Linked DNA regions of Homo sapiens: region 1 is linked to region 2. The links come from fine-mapping of genetic effects on gene expression. Tissue or cell type: lung. Region 2 holds a variant in brackets; the other region holds the start of a gene. All regions are shown on one strand. Distances are from middle to middle.

Region 1 (8,104 bases), 200 kb after region 2:
CTCAAATCAATTCTCCCTGGGAATAAACTGCCCCCTGGACTTTACAAGACAGAAGTGCTCCTTAAAGGGGAAATACAGCACAAAGGGAACAGCACTGACCTAGGATGCAGGTCCAGCCACAACTGAGTAACTTCTCCAGAAAGCCTTGGGCGAGTTTCCTCACCTGTCATGCTATATACTCCAAATCCCTTCCAGCTCTGGCACAGCCAGAGTGAGAAATTCTAGTTTCCTTCTTCCGAGTCAATACTGAAAAAACAATTCCAGTATAAAATTCCCTCATCTGTCAGGTGCTAGGGAGGCAGCATTTAAGACACGTCAATGTCAGTGCCCTTAAGGAGTTTAGAGTCTAGCAAGGAAGACAAATAATTACTCCAACGATTATATAAATACAACTGTGATAAATGTTACTAAGGAACAGTGCTTGGAGTTTGAAAGTGTGTAATGGGGGCTCAGGAAAGGTTTACCAAGGAAAGAACACCAAAGCCGAGACCTGAAAGCTGAGTACCAAGGATGGAGGCAGGGAGAACTCCAGACAGAGGAAAGGCATGTGACATATGTTCTTTTCAGGAATATTCCAAACCTGAGGAAGAATTAAATCACAAGTAAAATGAAGCAAACCTTTTAGAATCGCACATTTAAAGGAAAAAAAGAGCACTTTTCATCACAAACAGAAAAATTTACAAAATATGAACTCAAAAATCATGGGAATGCCAGGTGCAGTGGTGTGTGCCTGTAATCCCAGCTATGCAGGAGGCTAAGGCAAGAGAATTGCTTGAGCTCAGGAGTTCAAGACCAGCCTGGGCAACATAGCAAGAATTCTTATCAAAAACAAAACAAAACAAAGTAACGGAGGCCAGGCGCGGTGGTTCACGCCTGTAATTCCAGCACTTTGAGAGGCCAAGGTGGGTGGATCACCTGAGGTCAGGAATTTGAGACCAGCCTGGCCAACATGATGAAACCCCATCTCTACTAAAAATACAAAAAATTAGCCGGGCGTGGTGGCGGGCGCCTGTAATCCCAGCTACTCAGGAGGCTGGGCCAGGAGAATCACTTGAACCTTGGAGGCAGAGGTTGCAGTGAGCCGAGATCACACTGTTGCACTCCAGCCTGGGCGACAAGAGCAAAACTCTGTCTCAAAAAAAAAAAAACAAAAAATTTAGCCAGCGTGGTGGTGGGCACCTGTAATTCCAGCTACTCGAGAGGCTGAGGCAGAATCGCTCGAACCCAGGAGGCAGAGGTTGCAGTGAGCTGAGATCGTGCCACTGCACTCCAGCCTAGGCAACAAGAGCGAAACTCCATCTCACAAAAAAAAAAAAGAAGTAACGGGAGCAATTTTATGCCAGGACTGATAACCCCTTATCCAATCACTGACATCTGGCTAGAAGTCCCCAGACACTAAACCCTCACCCCTCAACAGAGGAGGTATCAGTTCCCTCTGGTCATTTGCAGCTGCCTCCAGGCCTTGAGTGAGGCTGCCAGAACTGGGCCCAGTAAAGTGGGGTAGTCCGAGCATGAAACACTTACTCCAAGACAGGAGGGGCTCGGCCCTGAGGCTGGATCTACCCCTGGGCCAATATTTCTGGTGCCAACTAAGAGTGCCAGGCATTGTACATAGGGATGGATGATAAGACATGATACAGTCACAGCACCAGGGAAGTAGAAAAGGAAAGAAGGGACGCTTCCTTGGCTCCAAGGAGGGGATGGTATCTGAAGATGGGCAAGACTTGGAGATGGAGAGAAGGAGCACCCCAACAGTGGGAATGACAAAAGCAAAGGCAAGTAGGCTGGAAAGCACTGGCTGTGCAGCTAGCGCTGCAGCGGGAGCTGGGGACAAGGGGACAGAGATCCGGCAACGGTGCAGAGTAGGCCCAGAAGAGATGACAATGCTATCTTCAAGGCGGTGTTTGGAGACCTGGTCAAATCCCAAGATCTGCCCAGACTGACCCTATGGCCAAGGGCCCTCAGTTTTCTACCGTGAACTAGTGCAAAGTTTCTCAAATATTAGGGTCATTAGGATCACCTGGGACAGGTTGCCAGGCTCCTCCTCCAGCGAGGACCTTCAGAGGTCCCAGGGTCTAGGGACTTTCTCAGGAGAGGTGAAAGCTGAGTAAAGAATGGCCAAGGGCCCAAGAGGACACTGTGGGCAGACAGTACAGCATGTATAAGGCCCACTCCCTACATAGCTAAGGTATGAGGTGCATGTAGACAAAGGAGGAGAGGTGAAGCCAGAGAAGTGGACCAGGCTCACAACACAACAGCCCTACCAATAAACTGGGACTTCACCCCGTAGGCAACAAGGAGCTATCAGAGACTCCCGAAGCCTGTAGGATCCTGGCAACAGCTCCCCTAGTCACTCACATAATACAACTCCTGTCTCAGCATGCTTCCCCAACCAACATCAGTCTCCACCCTTTAATATTACCTACTACTCCTTAAAATCTGGCCTCGGATCCCCTCTGTACAACTATTAGGTCAAAATCAAATAAGCAATTTGACCTAGGCAATTCACACTATGTCAGAAACACATCTCAGACAAGGAGAGCCAGGCAGTGAAGACAGATGATAAACAGAGATGGAAGCTGTCATGGAGGCAGACTGGTCCAGCCTGGGACAAGGCGGCCAGCTGTGCTCTCCCCAGATCATATCTGTTCCTCTTGAGCTTTCTCTTCCTCATTCGGAGGAACTCCAGGCTTCTCTAAATGGGTTCATGACCCTTGGAGGAAGGGGAAAAAGGGACACAGAGAGGAGATAAGATGGTTCACAATGAGTTTGACCAGATCCTACTGAAATACCTTAAGAGCAATGAGAAGTGTCACTGCAACTTCAACACTTCCAGAGGCCTCACCAAGGCCCTCTCCAGTTGCTCAGGATGACTACTGGTGACCAGTCCCATCCTCAGAAGTCAAAAACTGAGGAACATAAACAGAGGTGCAGACTCTGAAGGCAGTGCTGAACCCTGCAACGTTAGCAAAATGGGGGCGCGCGGACTCTCCTGGGGGCTGCGCTTAACTGGGGGAGAGGAAAACGAGGCGGTCATTAAAAACGCAGCTCCACTCCTCAGCACCAGCTGAGGGCGTCTGGCTCCCGGACACGCCCCCGAACGAGCCCTCCCGCAGGTTGTGAACACTACATTGCAAGCGGGCAGCTCAGGGAAGATCCTACCCGCTAGTTCCCCGGATCCCCTCCGGGAGCGCAAACTGACCTCGCCTAGGATGGGGTGGGCCACCCACCGGGAGCCCCCAGCCGCGGCCCGCTCACCTTGCACTTGAAGCCAGCGGCGGGCGGCAGGAGCTCCCGCAGCAGGCCCTTGGCCACCTCGCGGCTGGCCTCCTCGCTCACGAAGTGAAGGTTAAGCACCTCGTGCGCCTCGAACTTGGCGAGGCGCAGCAGTGAGCGCAGCGCGACGCGGGCCTTGGCCTGCAGCGCGGCATTGTGCTCCGCCTTGGTGAACATCATCAGCAGGTGGTAGTCCACCGGCCCGGCACCGCCGCCCTCCAAGCTCTTGGCCTTCGCGCCGGGGGCTGGCGCCACGGAGCCCCGCGCTAGCTCCAGCGCGGGCGGCGAGGGCGCGGCGGGAGCCCCGGCGCGGGCCTCCTTCAGCCTCTTGGTGGCGCTGGAGAAGGTCTCCCGGCCTGAGCCGAGGTAGTAGAAGGCGCAGACGGCCAGCGCCGCGGCCAGCAGCAGGGCGCAGTAGTGGGAGCGCACAGCGCCCAGGCGCGCCATGGCCCGAGCGCATGGGAGCCCGCCTCGGAGGAGGCCCATGCGCTACGAGACCGCGGCGCCAGCGGTGCCAGCAACGCGGGAGAGCCCTCGGGTACCCGGACGCCGGCGGCCACTTAGCCCCGGCGCCAGGCGGCGGCCATGAAAGGGGCGGGGCCGCGCCGCCTGGAGCCAATCGCGGGCGCCGGTGCGCGGAGGGGCGGGGCCGGGCGTGCCGAAACCGCTGGGTCCTAGGTTCCAAGGGTATTAGAGGAGGGGTTAGGGTGGGATCCGGCGCCCGGCGTTGGGAGGGGGGGATTCCGGACTCCAGCGTGCTGAGGGCTGGCCCGCTGTCCCGGCTGAGAAATGGCGCCCTACGCGGCGAGCCCCAGAGGATATCCAAGCTGAGTGTTGAAGGGAATGGAGGCGCCCGAACAGAGGAACTTAGGTTAGCCAAAAGCGAAGCTGGAGGCACCAAGAGGTAAAACTTTAATCTCTGCACCTTTTTTCCCTCAATTTCTTGGAGGCTTTAAGCCGTCTCGGCCTCTCCCTGCACACGAGCTGCAGCTAGGCAATTTAAACCGGCAGCTCCTCCCTTTTCCCCCGCCCTGGGAGGAAATGGCCCGGGCCGCACGTCGCGCCGGAGGCCGAGCGGAGGGAGGCTGGAGGATGTGGCCAGCAGGGGGCCCCCGCCGCCCGCACGAACCTGCGAGGCTGCTCCCCGAGCCCCAGCACCGCAAAGCCCTGGAGGGCGACATTCATCCACTTTTGTTTTATAAACAGACTTTTAACACTTTATCAAGAGCCTCCTTGAGGGTACCAGGGAGTTTTGCACGCCGAGGTCACGTGCCCAAAGTCACACAGCTAGCCAGTAGCAATTTTGACCCTAGGCAGTTGCACACTGCTAACTAGATAAAAACGTACTAACTTCAGTCTTCTAAGAATTGAGGCTATACCAGTAGTTTTTAAGTAAACACGTGCAAGTGCTGTGCATGCTGTCTAAATAGACAAAGAACTTGAGTAAGTACAGTAACCCTTCAGTTCTTTGGCCAAGTTCTCTGATTTCTGACCAGAGATTAGGTAAACGGTTTTTCCTGTTATTTCCACATTGTAAGGTTGCATGGATTATCCAACCTCTCTGCTTCAGACCTTGGCTTACATGTCACTACCTACACAAATGATCTCTAAATACCTCCTATCCAGTGTCTGGGCTAAGTGCCATCCTCAATAATTCTGTGAGGGCCACCTAAATATATGTACTACCCTAGTCTCATCTTTCTTCATTGCAAGAACACGTGACTCCAAGAGAACAGAATATACATTTGTTTTTTATTAACCACAATATACCCAGTACCTAACACGGTGCCTACCACATTGGATGAGTCTCAAAAATATACTCAACCATTGAAACAGCATTTTTATTTCTAGAAAATCTTCCTAATAATTTAAGAATGTTCAAAATATTTAACCATAAGAATAAAGCAAGGCCAAGCATGGTGGCTTAGGCCGGGAATGGTGGCTCACGCCTGTAATCCTAGCACTTTGGGAGGCCGAGGAGGGCAGATCACCTTAGGCCAGGAGTTCGAGACCAGCCTGCCCAACATGGCGAAACCCCGTCTCTACTAAAAATACAAAAAATTAGCCAGACATGGTGGCGGGCGCCTGTAATCCCAGCTACTCAGGAGGCTGAGGCAGAAGAATCGCTTGAACCTGGGAGGTGGAGGTTGCAGTGAGCCGAGATCATAACACTGCACTCCAGCCTGGGCGACAAGAGCAAAACTCTGTCTCAAAAAAAAAAAAAAAGTAGGCAGTGTGGTGGCGGACACCTGCAATTCCAGCTACTCGAGAGGCTGAGGCAAGAGAATCGCTTGAACCTAGGAGGCAGAGGATGCAGTGAGCCGAGATCATAACACTGCACTCCAGCCTGGGCGACAAGAGCAAAACCCTGTCTCAAAAAAAAAAAAAAAGTAGGCAGTGTGGTGGCGGACACCTGCAATTCCAGCTACTCGAGAGGCTGAGGCAAGAGAATCGCTTGAACCTAGGAGGCAGAGGATGCAGTGAGCCGAGATTGTGCCTCTGTACTCTAGCCTGGCGAAAGAGAGCGAGACCCTGTCTCAAAAAACAAACATAAAAATAAAGCAAAGCTAGGTTCATGATGGCAAAAAATCAGAATCAAATGGTCATCAATAAAGTGGTTAAAGCTAAAATAATGCAGTCATTAAAAGTGATGTTTTCAACAAACTGCAGGTGGAAATTTAAAAAACTAACAAATGGGTGAGGTGGCTCATACCCGTACTCCAAGCTATGTGGGAGACTGAGGTGGGAGGATCACTTGAGCTCAGGGGTCCAAGGCTGCAGTGAGCTACGATCGCCACAGGACTCCAGCCTGGATGACAGTGCGAGACCCCAATTCCAAAAAAAAAATAGTAATGGTAACAAATGGAAAAAAAAACCTACAGAGACTAAGAAACATATTCACCAACTGCAACGTATGGAACTTATGTGAATTCTGATTTGCACGATCTATTTTAAAAATCGTATTTGAGAAACCAATTTGAATATTGATTATGTAGTTTTACAGTTTAAGAAGTGTTACGATTTTTTAAAGTCCTCAACTTTTAGATGTACATACGGAATGATTTGCTGGTGAAAGGTCTAGGATCTGGTTCCAAAAAGTCCAGGAAAGGGGAAAAATGGGTAGGAGAACAAATATAAGCCATGAGCTTATAGCTATTGATTTTCTCTACCTGTACATGCTTGAAATTTCCCATAAAGTTCTCCCCATCTATTAAGTGAAAGAAGTGGGTAACTGTATGATCCCATTATATAAATGTATGAATACACACACCCAAAGGTCTAGAAGGGTATACACAAAAAAGTAACAGTATCTCCCTCAGTGCTATCCAGTAGAACTTCCTGTGACAATGTATATATTCTACAATCTCCCCTGTTCAAAACAATAGTCACTAGCCACATGGGGCTATAAAGTTCTTAAAATGTAGCAGTACGACTGAGGAAATGAACTCTTTGTCTAATTCCAATTAAGTAGCCACATGTAGCTAGTGAGTTCCATTTTGGACAGCACAAGATAATGGAATTGTGGATGATTCTCTTGCTTCTTCTTAACATTTCTCCACAAGCAAAAAGCTTTGTGTTTGCAATAATTGAAAAATTAAACTGTTTTCACTTAAAATATTTATAGACTATTGATGTGGGTTCTCCACAGAACTATTCTGAAAATGAAATGAAGCTGAATAAAGCAAGTTATATTGAAAAGTTTATGTGTCTGCTTTCAATTAGCTTTTTTTTTTTTAAAGCAAATGCAGGTGATACACTTCCAGTTTGGTTTTTTCAACCTTCCATTCCTTCAGTCCCAATTCACTGACAAACGTGTGTGTGTCTGTTTACTAAAAGGATAAAATGGGAATGTGCTGCATAGATTAGGAACATTAATGTCAATCATAATGGAAAAAACTTAGAGCAAGCCCCTCCCCCCACCCCCCAAAAAAAACCTTTTATCTTTTTGCCAATGAATTAGGGGCTATAACAGCTCTGTGAACAAAGAGAATTATATACTTAAAAGATCCAAATGGATTTCTTGATTGAAGTAATCAGCAAATAGGATGAATGTGGATTTGAAAGGGCTGGGAAGAAATACCTTAAAAATAATAGTACCTTAAAAATAACTGCTGTTGACAGATATGTTCACAGTGTATTTCACAAGAAAATGTAAATCACCATGAAAGAACTAAGCCAGAGGTGAGATCTTTATTGACTTATTGTAATTTTTTGGCATACAAATTACTTAAGTATATTTACAATTCTTACATAATGTACATTTTAGAAGATAATGTACTTTGCTCCATTTACAATGACAAACTACTGTAAAACTACATTCATGAATTAGATACAAATCCTCTACATACTAATAAAAAGTAAATGGACTGTTGGTTATACATTCTTTAAAATATACCTTTTCACAGGTAGCAAGAAATAGTACATGTAATAAGTCTTTATGACTGGAATGATCCAGAAATATCACAAAGCATGAGTAAACACATATATAAAAGTAGCTCATCATTTCCAAAAGTTAACCTTTAGCCTTTGTGTAAAATAAATGGTGCCAACAATCTTTATAATGTAGCAAGCTTTCCCTGTTTAATATCCAAAAAATGGAGGGTGGGGAGGTTGAAGAAAAATAAGAAAAGTTAGCAAATAAGATAGTGAAAAGACCAATGCAGAGAAAAGTTTATGTAATCAAATCTTGCTTTGTCTCCACATTATCACATTTTAAGTGGATAAATTTATGTAAACAGAAAAAGATGTCCACAAAACCATATCTGTAGATGTCATTTGGAAGCATCAAGAAATTGATAAGTATGTGGTGAATTAAAATTACTTTTAT
Region 2 (8,104 bases):
CTGAGGTAGCCCCTGACCTACTGGTTTTTGTGGAGTGGCACAGCCAACAAAAATTGGACAGCTTACAAGCATGCATCTGTTCATCCATGGGGTTACGGAGATGCTACCAACACATTTCATGAGCTCCAAAACGGCTGTAATTTATAATTTAAAAAGAATATTCTAAGTAATAATGGTTAGAATTCCCTTACATCTGTATTATTTCACAGCTTACCAAGTCCTTACACATCTTTTCCTCCTTCCACACTCCTTTGAGGAGCTCTTACCAGTGTCTAGAACTGGGGAAAGAGGTGGCCTTGCCTGTCCAAGATGGCCAGGTAGTGAGGGCAGGATGTGGACTCAAAGCCAGGCCTCCGTCTCGGGTGTGAGGCTGTCTCCACTATACCACCTGCTTGCTTGGAAATTTCTGCTCCCTGCCAACCTCCAGATTTAGCCCAGCCCGTGGGCCTCCCATATTAAGATCAGCCAGGAAGTGTTAAAATTAGCAGAGGTTTGGCCTCTAGTCAAAGCAGGTGCCAAGACACAGCTGCACTTACTACCTTAACCTACAAACTCCTGGTGTGCTCTAGGTTGGGCCTGTGAACCAACACATCATACTTTGACTTGATGAAATGCTGTTGAAGGAGAGGCCGCAGTCTGTTTGGTTTGACACACACAGAAGAGCAAATCTCTTCAGCAAGCCTGCGTGCTTTCCAAAGGCCATCATCATTTGTAGGGTGGACTTTGTGTATACACAAAAGATGACAGTATATGAGAAATGAAAGCAGGGTCTGGAGCTGCTATTATTAGATCGCTTTTATTTGGAGAACTGGGGCATCCACAGGGAAGTTGAAGACCCAGAGCCGACTCAGCCTAGATTATGTGTTCTTAGGGGTGACATCGGCCATGGACAGCCGGGAGCTGTAAGACGGCCAGGCTGACACTCACCTGGAACTGGGGAGAAGGGATGTGGTTAAAAATGTACAGCATTTATTATCTTATAATAAAGGTAATTAATACTCGATGTGGAAAATACAGAAATATAGATGAAAACAAAAAGCACCTTAATCCTAGCACCCAGACATGTTATCTTTTCAGATTTCTGTTTTCCTCATATGTACAGGCGTATTCTCGAGAGTGGGTTTCCATGAAGCAAGTTAAGCACAGCACAAGGAACTATGCTTGCATGACAGCAACTGTAACAGGACCCAGGTCAGGAGCTGGCACTCCACGACTTGTCAAGCACGGCAATGGCGAGGCACAGCAAGCCCCGGCTGCTCTGTCAGCGGGCTGGGGTGTGATCTGTGGGCGGGCTGGGGTGCCTGTGCGGTGATCTGTGGGCGGGCTGGGGTGTGATCTGTCGGCGGGCTGGGGTGCCTGTGCGGTGATCTGTCGGGCTGGGGAGTGATCTGTCGGGGGGATGGGGTTTGAACTGTCAGCAGGCTCGGGTGCCTGTGCAGTGATCTGTCAGCGGGTTGGGGTGTGACCTGTGGGCGGGCTGGGGTGCCTGTGCGGTGATCTGTGGGCGGGCTGGGGTGCCTGTGCGGTGACCTGTGGGCGGGCTGGGGTGCCTGTGCGGTGATCTGTCGGCGGGCCAGGGTGTGATCTGTTGGCGGGCCGGGGTGTGATCTGTTGGCGGGCCGGGGTGTGATCTGTCGGCGCTCTGTGATCTGTCAGCGGCCTGGGGTGTGATCTCTCAGCGGGCTGGGGTGCCTGTGCGGTGATCTGTTTGCGGGCTGGGGTGTGAGCTGTCGGCGGTCTGGGGTGTGATCTGTCGGCGGTCTGGGGTGTGATCTGTCGGCGGTCTGGGGTGTGATCTGTCAGCGGGCTGGGGTGCCTGTGCAGTGATCTGTCGGGGGGCTGAGGTGTGATCTGTGGGCGGGCTGGGGTGACTCTGCAGTGATCTGTCGGCAGGCTGGGGTGTGATCTGTCGGGCTCGGGTGTGATCTGTCGGCGGGCTGGGGTGCCTGTGCAGTGATCTGTCGGTGGGCTGAGGTGTGATCTGTGGGCAGTTTGGGGTGCCTGTGCAGTGATCTGTTGGTGGGCCGGGGTGTGATCTGTTGGCGGTCTGTGGTGTGACCTGTCAGCGGTCTGGGGTGTGATCTGTCAGCGGGCTGGGGTGCCTGTGCAGTGATCTGTTGGTGGGCTGGGTGTGATCTGTTGACGGGCTGGGGTGTGATCTGTCAGTGGGCTGGGGTGTGATCTGTGGGCGGGCTGGGGTGCCTGTGCAGTGATCTGTCGGCGGGCCGGGGTGTGATCTGTGGGCGGGCTGGGGTGCCTGTGCAGTGATCTGTCCGCAGGCTGGGGTGTGATCTGTCGGCGGGCTGGGGTGTGATCTGTGGGCAGGCTGGGGTGCCTGTGCGGTGATCTGTCGGGGGGCTGGGGTGTGATCTGTGGGCGGGCTGGGGTGCCTGTGCGGTGATCTGTGGGCGGGCTGGGGTGCCTGTGAAGTCATCTGTCGGTGGGCCGGGGTGTGATCTGTCGGCAGGCTGTGGAGTGATCTGTCGGTGGGCTGGCTGCCTGTGTGGTGATCCGTCGGCGGGCTGGGGTGCCTATGTGGTGATCTGTCAGCAGGCTGGGGTGTGATCTGTCTATGGGCCAGGGTGTGATCTGTTGGTGGGCTGCAGTGTGATCTGTCGGGCTGGGGTGTGATCTGTCCGCGGGCCGGGGTGGGATCTGTTGGTGGGCTGCGGTGGGACCTGTCAGCGGGCTGGGGTGTGATCTGTCAGCGGGCTGGGGTGTGATCTGTGGGTGGGCTGGGGTGCCTGTGCAGTGACAGTCTGCTGTGCACTGGGGGGTTGGAAGGTCGAGGCCACTGGTGACAGAGGGGAAGCTCCTGAGAGGTTTACTTAAAAGTAAATGAGGGATGTTGTTTGGCCTTTGCCCATTTTGACCAACCAGCTTATTGTTTTTTTCTTGCAACAACAAAATACACACATAGCTATAGACACATTTTAATTATAGAAAGGATTGCAGGGAAAATACCTTTATTATTGTGAGTCTAAAATTCTTTAGCCTTTAACTCACTTTTTTCCCGTTGAAATAATTGTTTTTTTAATGTGGTGTTTGAAACACCTATGTTTTTAGAAGTTGAAATACAGCAGAATAGATGCTCTTTTTATACATACGTGTGTGTGTAGGTATGTATCTATACACACGTGTGTACACTGATATACATACACATATATGTAATTTTAAAAATAGGATCGTATTAAACATATGATCTTACATTTTGCATTCTTTATTTAATAGCACATTCTAAGTATTTCCTGAGGCATTACATATTCTTCGAATAATGCCTCAAGTATTCTGTTATATGGATGAAGCATATTATTCATCTACCTATTCCATTCTTTTTTTTTTTTTTTTTTTTTTTTTTTTAAAGACAGACAGAGTCTTGCCCGGTCCCCCAGGCTGGAGTGTAGTGTCGTGATCTCAGCTCACTGCAGCCTCTGCCTCCTGGGTTTGAGTGATCCTCCCAGCTCAGCCTCCTGAATAGCTGGGCGTGCACCACCATGCCCAGCTAATTTTTGTATAGTTGTAGACACTGGGCCTTGCCATGTTGCCCAGGCTGGTCTTGAACTCCTGGGCTCAAGAGATCTGCCGGCCTCAGCCTCTGAAAGTGCTGGGATTACATGTGTGAGCCACCGCGCCTGGCCCCTCTTTTTCACATTTTAAGTTGCTTCCAATTTTCTTCTACTATAAAAAATGTGATAAACATATAGTATATGACTCTGTCCACATCTCTCACATTTTCTTACAGTCGACTTTAGACATAATGACCTTCATGAAGTTTTCATAAACATTATCAATAGCGTAATAAATCCCCCAATACAATGGCTGGTGCACAGCAGGCATTCAAGAATTGTTACCTATAAATAGGAAATCAAGTAGGTGAGAGAACAGACCAATTCTGTCACAGCAGAGGGCTGGGAAAGATATCTGCTCCACCTCTTCAGGGCAGGATGTAACTGGGCAGTCTAGGGTAAGAGGGATGAGAAGAAATGGGGATGCTTTTGCTCCCCAGTGCAGGTGGACCTGCCAATACCTAGAATGAAATGATTCCTTGCTTTGAACCAAACATGCCAATACTACCCTCTCTGACACCCTCTCAGATGTGCCCTCTCCTTGGTCCTTAGGATCTCCTGTAAGCACTCATCTTCATCAGGGGAGGTGGGGATTCCAATGGCATTGAGTACACACTTGATTCAGAGCCTTCATGCAGCTGAAACTGTGATCAGAGAACAAACAACATGAATCACCATGTTCTCAAAGATGATTTATT[G/A]GCTATCCTCACTCATGGGAAAAAGAAAAACGTAAATGAAATCAAAACAAAACAAGATGAAAATTGATACAAATGGACCCCTGGGGCTTTCACGTCTGCAGCCTACGTACAGGAGGCCCCATCAAAAGAAATGACGCTTTAATTTCTGCTAAGGTCTACGGTCTAACGTGGTATGATAAGGGGATTTTTTAAACAAAGAAACTAGAATGCTTACTAGCCCATGAGTGACATGTCTTCCAAGCCCACATGGTCACACTTGGGAATTGCTGGGTTCCTTTTTGGTTTTTTTTTTTTTTTTGAGATGGACGTCTCACTCTGTCGTCCAGGCTGGAGTGCAGTGGTGTGATCACAGCTCAGTGCAGTGAACTCCTGGACTCAAGCCACCCTCCCACTTCAGCCTCCCAAGTAGCCGGGACAACAAGCACAAGCCACCACACCTGGCTAATTTTTAAAATATTTTGTAGCGATGGGGGCCTCCCTGTGTTTCCCAGGCTGATCTCGACCTCCGAGGCTCAATCGATACCCCCACCTCGGTCTCCCAAAGTGTTGGGATTACAGGCTTGACGACTGTGCCCGGCCTGGGCTTTTTGGAATGAGTCTTCCTGGTCCCGACAGTTCTCCTGCATGTCCTTGTGGTGGCCAGTCTCTGTTCTTTGATGACGAATTTGCTTTCTGAGTAGAGTCTGGTCACCTGGAGCTGGTTTGGTGGAATAAAGGACAATGGGGTTCTAGGATGTAGCTGGGAGATACAAGCTGTGAGTACTCTAATAATGAGATAAGTTTTCTTATGCAGGCCCCAGTTGGTCCTGAAGTCCTTCCTCAAAGAGGCGATCCTGAAACCTACACCAAGTGACGTGAGCATCAGGAGAATGCGCGTGCAGCAGCCTCCCAGGGTGAGTATGTGATGGGCTGGCATTCGTTTGGAAGCTTAGATACTGGGCTGGTCATTAAAACCTTGGCTTACCTTACCCGTTTGGGGCTCGATGGGTGCTAAAGCAGTTCTGTTTGTACTTTCTCGAAAAATGGAAGGCTGTCAATTTAAATTAAATTTATATTGGTCCAAAAAAGGCCGGGTCTAAAGGATTTCCATTCCTCAGAGGCAGACAGCAAGGGGGACCCTTTCTCCCCTTCCTTCTCTTCAAGTGCTTGCTTCCCAGCCCACTGGACATGCGTGTCCTTTGTGTCGCCTGCTCCCTGGAGGAATAAGGTCCCAAGCACCAGCAGTGCACAGGCCAGTCCTTGGCGGGTGGCCTCAGCACAGTGACCTGCCCGGCAGGAGGTCTCAGCACCTTAATCACAGGACTTCCCTGCGGTGTCTCTCTAGCGGGTCAGACACTGCCCTTGGGTCTGTCCCAAGGAACCCTGTCCTTCCCCCAGATCTGGAGGCCCCGGGGGCAAGGCACGGGGAGCGCCTAGTCCTCCGGGATGGGAGTGTTGCAGTTCCCGTGGTAGATCTTGACGTGGCCCTCACACCTGAAATAGGCCTCGAAGACGTCACTGTAGCCATGGTCCCTCCACCAGGTGCACAGCTGCCGGTTCCAGGTACAGTCCAGCACATGGAAGAGCTTGGGGTGCTCCATGCCGATCATGGTGAAGAAGTCCTGGTCCCCGAGGTGGCCGCGGAAGTGGTACTTGTCGGCCAGCTGCTGCACCTGCGCCGGCTCCAGCAGGCGGCTGTAGAGCGGGGACTGGCGCATGGCCTCCAGGTTCAGCAACATCACCCCGCTGTTGAAGCCCGGCAGCCCCTCGGGGGGCGGGCCCCCAACCCGGGTCTGGGGGTTCTCATGGCGGAACTGCCAGAATGTGTGCCTGTGGAGAGAGAGGACAGAGTTAGTCCGGTGTGCAGGGGAACCAGCCTGCCGGCCTGCTGCCCTGGGTCTTCACAGCCAGCCTGCATGCAAACACTGCCACATTCCGGGGTGCAGAATCCGCATCACTACACCAGCAAGTGGCAGAGCTGGGACCTGAACCCAGGGCTCTGGACCCCAAGCCTCAGATTCTTTCTACCATCCTCTGCTACGTCCTCACCACAGCCAACATTGATATTATTGACTGAGGATGTACCAGGCGCCATACTAGACCGGCTTACTTACTCCCCACACAACCCCAGGGGATGGGTGCTCTGAGATGATACATCATTTCACAGCCAAGAAAACGGACGCACAGAGAGGTCAAGGTATTTGCCCAAAGTCACACACCTAGTAAGCAGCAGACGCAGGGACTAAACCCAGACAATCTGGCTCCAAAGTCCACATTCTTAAGATAGCAGCAATCTAGGTAGAACTTTCCACCCCCTTGTCTTCACCTGTGATCTTGAAAAGGAGAAGGGAGAGAGAAGCAGGGGACACAATCCTGAACAGAGATCTCATCAAGACGCAGGCAGCTGAACCCTGACTGGAACAGAACTGTTTTCTGCTTTAGAACAAGGCTCATTCATTGAGCCCCAAGCCTGGCACTTCAGAAAGGCTGGGCAGGGGCTGGGGGCCTGCGACAGCCCAGGGCACACCATGGGTTAGGGTGAAAGACAGCTGTAGAAGAGCCATGTAGGATGATGTCTACTTTAGAAGGAATGTCACTTCAAGTTCAATTTTTCTCTCAGCAGATTTAGAAACCAATCTAGGTTCATAGTTCAGGGAGTGTTAGCCTCTTCTAGGTCCTCTACCCAAATGCTTCCATCTGGAGGGGAGAAGAAAGACCTAGACACCTCCCTGTGAGGGCCAGGGTTAAAGCGCTGCACTGTCCTCCAGCCTCTTTAATAGCTAAGCCTCATGTGTGCTGCAAGGGGTGTGCAGGTGGAGGGGAGAGGCGTCCAAGCCCACACCCACAGAGGAGGGGCCACAGCAATCGTGCCGGTGACCTGGAGGAAGGAGGACCATCAGGAGGCCCACTGTGGCAGGGACAGGCGTGGGAGTGGGTCCTCACGGGGAGGACACATCGTGGCAGAACCAGCTCTGCCTCCCAGCCTGGAGATGCTGCCCCACCGGCCCCCGCAGAGAGACTTCCCCACCCAAACCCAGGATAGGATCTGCGTGATGAAGCAGAAGGTACGGGGGAATAAAACCGGAGACCCTGCCCAGGGTGGCCCTGAGGGGCCACTTCTCAGCACCAGCACATTGCTCCGCTTCTGGGAACGGAGGAACCTTCCTCAAGGTCTCACGTATCACAGAGAGTGCCAAGAGTCTGATCCTGGCGAGGGGGAAGCATTCCCTCCGGACATTCTTACAGGGGAATCCACAGGGCCACTGCTTGTGTTCTGCTGTGAGTGGAACCGAGCTCTGGTGCCTGCCTGGTGGTAACAGCCTTGGCAAAAATAAGCTTCTCAAGCAAACTGAGATGCTGTCATCTTGCCACAAAAGTCTGCGGTGATAGGGTCACACAGGGTTGGGATGCAGTGTGGCAGCTGTGTGTTCATTTTACCCTATTTCTTCCCAGTGGTTCATTTCAGGACCAGGTTATAAAGCAGCTAAAATTCTACCAGGCAGACCAGGGCACCATGACATCAGAGAGGAGGGACCCTCTGACTAGGGGCAGTGGGTGCTTTACCACCAAGGAGCTCGATTTACCCTTCGAGGGGTGGGAACGAAGCGTTTACCGAGGTGGAGCAGAGACCCAAAGGGAGGGAGGGCACGAGAAGCAGGGAGGCAGGACCTGTGGCCGCCGAGGTCCTGGACTACCTCATGCTCCACGGAGCCCACGTGTCCATCTTTCTTTACTGTCCAGAGTACCCAGGAGGGAGAGGACTCACCCAGCTGGGGGTGTGGCCCGTGCAGTCTCTTGTGTCCACAGGACCTCACAGGGCACCAGCACAGCAGGGCCACAGGAAAGATCACAGGGCTGATG

Evidence for each region. PIP is the estimated chance that this variant, and not a neighbour inherited with it, causes the effect.
Region 1: XXYLT1 starts here. The variant in region 2 is fine-mapped to the expression of XXYLT1 in lung (TOPMed, PIP above 0.99).

The regions. Positions count from the first base shown.
Region 1 is chr3:195,267,297-195,275,400 of GRCh38, forward strand. XXYLT1 (xyloside xylosyltransferase 1) reads right to left here and starts at 3,863. Exons shown (of 4, transcript NM_152531.5): 1 at 3,259-3,863. The coding sequence starts at 3,762. ACAP2 (ArfGAP with coiled-coil, ankyrin repeat and PH domains 2) reads right to left here. Exons shown (of 23, transcript NM_012287.6): 23 at 7,449-8,104. RefSeq lists an enhancer at 3,102-3,893 and silencers at 3,144-3,323, 3,484-4,013, 4,264-4,493.
Region 2 is chr3:195,064,039-195,072,142 of GRCh38, forward strand. It overlaps XXYLT1 (xyloside xylosyltransferase 1), which reads right to left. Exons shown (of 4, transcript NM_152531.5): 4 at 4,246-6,073. The coding sequence ends at 5,677. Among named protein-coding and RNA genes, the nearest start is that of XXYLT1-AS1, 26 kb to the right of the region's middle. RefSeq lists an enhancer at 4,294-5,493. The variant G/A (reference allele first, on the strand shown) is at 4,265.